2 separate regions of the Homo sapiens genome follow, and region 2 is linked to region 1. The links come from fine-mapping of genetic effects on gene expression. A gene starts in region 1. The other region holds a variant in brackets. All regions are shown on one strand. Distances are from middle to middle.

Region 1 (2,500 bases):
GGTTTGTTTTTGGTTTCTGGGCGTCGCTTTTTATAGGTTTTCTTTTAAGCCAAAATAACAGCACACAAGAAAGAGGCTTGAGATTGCCGGGATCTCCGGAGCCGGCGGCCTCAAAATGACAAGTTGCTTCTCCCTTATCTTGAAAATTAACAGCAGCCCAAACACTGCAATTTACTCACCGTCCTCCTTTCTCCTAAACTGCCTCGGAGCTTGTTTTGTTAGGTCTAGTTCCATTGTGGAGGGAAAAAGGGTTTCTCGAAAAACTTTATACGGTAAGAGACCAGAACCTTCCAGACCCCTCAACCCTCCTCGCGTACAGACCCTTTTACAAGAAAACAATAGTGAACGAGGAGCTGGACACTCCTCTTGGCTTCCCAATTGCACAACCTCGCCGGCGATTCGACAAAAGAGGGTCCCAGAGCAGATTCTCTCGGCCCCCACGGCTCCTGGGCTTACCCGCGAGGCTGCGCGTCCCTCCCGCCCTTCACTGGGGCTCCAGGATCCCCGGGTGCCCTCTCGGCGGTGGCTGCGGCGCACGCCGGCTGGCTCGCGGGTCCCAGCGCCCATGGTCCCTTTACGCCTCCGCACGCCACCTCCTTGGTGCTGGCAGGATATGTGGAGGGGCAAACAGCGCTCCGTGTCCCCACCCCCAACCCTGAGCCTCAGAGGCTGCAAAGCCGGAGGGTCGGGGCAGCACAGACCCCAGGCCGCCCGGACCCCGGCCCAGACCGGTCTTCCCGCACCCCCAATTTCCCTCACCCGGGCAGTGCAAACCCGCAGCGAAGCCGGCCGGCAAGAGTGACCCGCCGAGGCCCAGGAGCGACGACCGCAGAGGCGCACCGGGCTCCGAGACCTGAGGGGCCGCTGCTCCAGCCGGCTGCTGCCTCTCTCGCGGCGCCTGCCACATCGGGCCGCAGAAGCCCGAGGCCGGCAGAAACCAAAGGAAGGTGGCGCGGGCCAGGGGCGGCGCGGGCACGATTCCTTCCCCGCGGATCTGGCGGGGGAGCAGAGGAGGGAGCAGCCCTGCCCGGAGTCTCAGGCTCCCGCCAGCCCCAATCCCGGGCGACTGCGCCGAGCGCCTCCGGAGTCGCGGGAAGCTCCTCCTGCTCCGCGGCTGGCGCCAGTTGCACGGTGGCCGCCCCCAAATTCGAGGAGGAAGGTGCAAAGTGGTGGGAGGCTGCGGGTCTCCCGGAGGGTGAGGCGTTGGGGACCAGGCGGGAGCACAGCCGAACCCCTACCTTTCGGGCGGGGCGGACACCAGCCGCGCGCCCTCGCCGGGCGCCGGGACCGGAAAATCACCGCGAAGGGAGGGACGAGGAAAGGCGGCGGGTGGCTTCAGGACAAGGTAGGAGGATCGATTTCCACAGCCAAGAAGACACTCCCATCCCGCCCTGGTTTGTTTGGAAAGCTGCAGGAGCTAAAGTGAGGGGTGGCCGGGTACTCCCCTTCCCCGCCCGGCTGGCAGGCGGCAGAAGTAAACACTGAGGCTTGTGGCGCCGCGGACTGACTGTGACACAAGGCTCAGCAGAAGGTTTGGTCCCTATCAGAAGGGGAGGAGTGTTCAGAGAGCTCCTGAATTCCGGGGCTCTGCCCTTCAAGGGCAAATGTGTTCGTACTTTTTATCTTTTGAAGGAGATAAATTACTTTAGGGAGAACGAAGGTGGAACGTGCTGTTTGCGTTTTCTTTTCTCTCCATAGGCAAAACCCTACGTTATTAATGTCCTCTTACTTGGATGGCTCTGAATACTTTTTAAAGTGTGTTTGTCAAATAATTCCTTGTCTAGAAACATTCAAGTCATAGCTCCAACCTTTGGGCCCTGAGCAGTGTAATCACGTGCCATCAATTGACCCCAGAGAGAAGACCCACGGACTTGGATGTAATTCAAAGTTGGCAATGTGTCACGAACTGGAACAAAGTCCTTCATCTGTGATGGGCTTTCTGGTATTTGTCCTTTTTTTTTTTTTTTTTTTTGAGACAGAATCTTGCTTTGTCACCCAGGCTGGGGTACAGGGGCATGATCTTGGCTCACTGCAACCTCTGCCTCCCAGGCTCAAGCGACTCTCCTGCCTCAGCCTCCCGAGTAGCTGGGATTACAGGCTGGGATTACCACTCCCAGCTAATTTTTGTATTTTTAGTAGAGATGAGGTTTCATTATGTTGGCCAGGCTGGTTTCGAACTCCTGACCTCAAATGATCCGCTCGCCTCCACCTGCCAAAGTGCTCTGGTATTTGTCTTAATTGTAATAACAGCCCTAGGAGGTATCATTTGTTGTTTTCCCAACCTTACTTTAAAAAAAAAATGGCCGGGCGCCGTGGCTCACACCTGTAATCCCAGCACTTTCGAAGGCCGAGGCGGGCGGATCACGAGGTCCGGAGTTCCAGATCAGCCTGACCAACGTGGTGAAGCCCCGTCTCTCCTAAAAATACAAAAATTAGCCGGGCATGGTGGTGCGCGCCTGTAATCTCAGCTACTCAGGAAGCTGGGGCAGAAGAATCGCTT
Region 2 (3,016 bases), 20 kb after region 1:
CAATAAAGGGTCTTGCCACATTTTCCTTCTGCTCCCTCTGCCTCCGGACTGACCCTGGTGCTTTCCTTTGTGGGCCTTCGTGGCTTACCTCGTGTTTCTAGGAACCTGCAAGTGTAAAAACTTCTTTCTTCATGACAGTCATTTCCATGACTGCTGCCTTACTATACCTGATTTAAACAAATCCTGAGCACATTTTAAAACATAAATTCAACAGCTGGACCTGCTATGCAGAGCAATTCAGGCGGAGGGAATGGCTCATGCACACTCTCCAAGTACTGTTAGGTATGAGTTCTAAATTTCTCTTCAAAGAATCAATATGTCAGTATGTTCAGTTCTTTGCCTTCTACTGTTAAACTTAACTTCCTCGTAAAGCAACCTTTTTCCATTACCTGCTCCACCCTGACTCATTCTGATTACCTGCTCATTCTCCACCCTGGCTTACTCTGATTTCCTGCTCTGCCCTGTAACCATTTTTCCCGCCAAACCACTCACCCTGTCACTCTCTTTAAATTAGCCAATTGGAATTAGTTTAGCCTGTGCAGTCTAACCCAAGCCAATAGGGGAACCATACAGCAGCAGGGACCACGTGCCTCAGGGATAAGAACCCCTTCCCCTCCCTTGTCCAAGTGTGCGCTCACGATTGCTCCATCTGTAAGGGTGCACCCTTCTATAGAAGTACGTTGTCTTGCTGAGAATTAAAAAGAAAATTTTATATTCGAGCGCTATTTCTTTTGCGGCACTGAAACTTTATTTATAATAGTATGAATGAGCCTGGCATGTGCAGGGAAGAACCAGCAGATCGGTCTGGCTGGAGCATATCATACGAGGGGAGCGTAATGGGCAAGGAAGCCAAAGAGGAGGTAGGAGCTAGATCGTTCATCACGCAGGGCCTCGAAGGCAAGGGTAAGGAATTGGGATTTGATTCTAAATGCGAAAGGAAGTAAATAAAATATTTTACGCAAGGAGTGATTGAATCTGACATATTTTTTAAAAAATCACTCTGAGGTCTACTTGGAGAAAGAATTACAATGATGCAAGAGTGGAAGCAGAAAAGCCAGTCTGGAGACTACTGCAGGACCTGAGGCAAGAGATGACAATGGCTTGGACCATGCTGGCGGCTGTGGATATGGAGCCCAGTGCCATCTAAATTTATCCTAAAGAATGCAGAAAATCAAAGACTAGTCTCATATGAGACAAACTCAAGCCCCAGCAGAATAACAAGTGGGACCCTGAGGAGTATAAATAATGCCAGATCATTTCTTTCTTTGATAGAATGATGAGTCACCTTAATCAGGGGAAGAAGAGTTTCTGGTAAAAAATCTTGAGTCACGCACTTTTTTTTTTTTT[A/TA]ACGTCTCAAGGTAGAATTGTCTAATGCTTAGGTGGTCCACATCTTACAGGTTATCTAGTTTGGTTCCCATATTTCATGAGTAAGAAAAATGAAGTGAACTCATCGTGGTGAGGGTCTTGCCCAAATTAAACCTCTGGAGAGTAGATTCTTTAATGCTCAAGAGGCTTTTTGCAAGGAAAGAACATACTCTTTGGGCATTGTTCAATGCTCAATTTATTAGTCTAATATTCTATTCCCAGTAAAATGCTCAAATTCAGGAAGGATTCCAAAAAATCAGTTCGGGACGGGTGCGGTGGCTCACGCCTGTAATCCCAGCACTTTGGAAGGCCAAGGCTGGCGGATCACAAGGTCAGGAGATCAAGACCATCCTGGCTAACACGGTGAAACCCCATCTCTACTAAAAATACAAAAAATTAGCCAGGCGTGGCAGCGTGTGCCTGTAGTCCCAGCTGTTGGGGAGGCTGAGGCAGGAGAATGGTGTGAACCTGGGAGGTGGAGCTTGCGGTGAGCTGAGATTGCCCTACTGCACTCCAGCCTAGGAGACAGAGCAAGACTCCATCTCAAAAAATAAAATAAAAAATCAGTTCAATGTTTTTTCTGTTCTTTTTTGTGCTTCTGTTTTTTAACCTCTTCGAGGTAAGACTGGATAATGATACCCATCCAACATATTTTCAATATGTTTTGGAAAACAAAGATATTGATAAGCAGGTACTATGCAGAGTGCCAGATTAAAACCTTTAGAGACTCAAAGTTCAAAAATGTTATAGAGTCCATACTCAATATGTAATTCTATATAAAAATAATACTAGTCCATAATGTAAGTGGGAGACCAGCAAGATCCTGATAATTTTCAAATGACTTTTTCTGTAGTTTAAAAATAACCACTTTTTAACTTAAAAAAAGTTCTTTTGATGCCTCTGTTTTTGGTGTCCTAAGAATGTATTTAAGCTGCATTTGGGTAATCCAGTTGCAGTTGAGCATCTGCTGTGCTTTACACTAGATGAGGAAATGGGATATGACAGAGAATGACTGGAGGGCTTCTTGATTGCGTTATCAGAACAGACTTCTCTGAGGAGGGAACTTTCAAGTTGAGGTCTAAATGATGAGGAGAACCCAGCTACGTAAAGATTAATGGAATGAGCAACCCAGGAAAAAGAAAGAAAGAAGAAACAGGATCCTGGACATCAAGTAGCTCCCCATCTAGTCAGGGAGACAGACATAAAAAGAGCTCATTTTGGCCGCGCATGGTGGCTCACACCTTTAATCCCAACACTTTAGGAGGCTGAGGTGGGTGGATTGCTTGAGGTCAAGTGTTCGACACCAGCCTGACCAACATGGTGAAACCCTGTCTCTGCTAAAAATACAAAAATTAGCCGGGCATGGTGGCAGACGCCTGTAGTTCCAGCTTTTTGGGAGGCTGAGGCACGAGAATCACTTGAACCTGGAGGCAGGGATTGCAGTGGGCAGAGATCGTGCCACTGCACTCCAGCCTGGGCAACAGAGAGACTCTGTCTAAAAAAAAAAAAAAAAGGAAAAAGAGAGCTGATTTTAACACAATGCGGTTCCTGCTGCACCAGGCATGAGAACAGGAATCCAGTGGAAGGAGTGATTAATTAGAACTAAGAATTGAGAAAGGGCTGTGCCAAGCAGAATATACAAAATTATAGA

Alleles and levels. Positions count from the first base shown, and alleles are read on the strand shown. Sizes are in standard deviations (SD) of each study's normalised expression.
For the expression in lymphoblastoid cells of the gene that starts at base 1,120 in region 1, allele A in region 2 goes with a higher level than allele TA (moderate effect, 0.62 SD a copy in CAP).

Evidence for each region. PIP is the estimated chance that this variant, and not a neighbour inherited with it, causes the effect.
Region 2: its variant is the best candidate, but not a certain one, in a credible set for the expression of ST3GAL6-AS1 in lymphoblastoid cells (CAP, PIP 0.73).

The regions. Positions count from the first base shown.
Region 1 is chr3:98,731,271-98,733,770 of GRCh38, reverse strand. It overlaps ST3GAL6-AS1 (ST3GAL6 antisense RNA 1), which reads left to right and starts at 1,120. Exons shown (of 5, transcript NR_046683.1): 1 at 1,120-1,345. It also overlaps a transcript of ST3GAL6 not described here. RefSeq lists enhancers at 158-905, 906-1,654.
Region 2 is chr3:98,710,981-98,713,996 of GRCh38, reverse strand. No RefSeq gene overlaps it. Among named protein-coding and RNA genes, the nearest start is that of ST3GAL6-AS1, 20 kb to the left of the region's middle. The variant A/TA (reference allele first, on the strand shown) is at 1,348.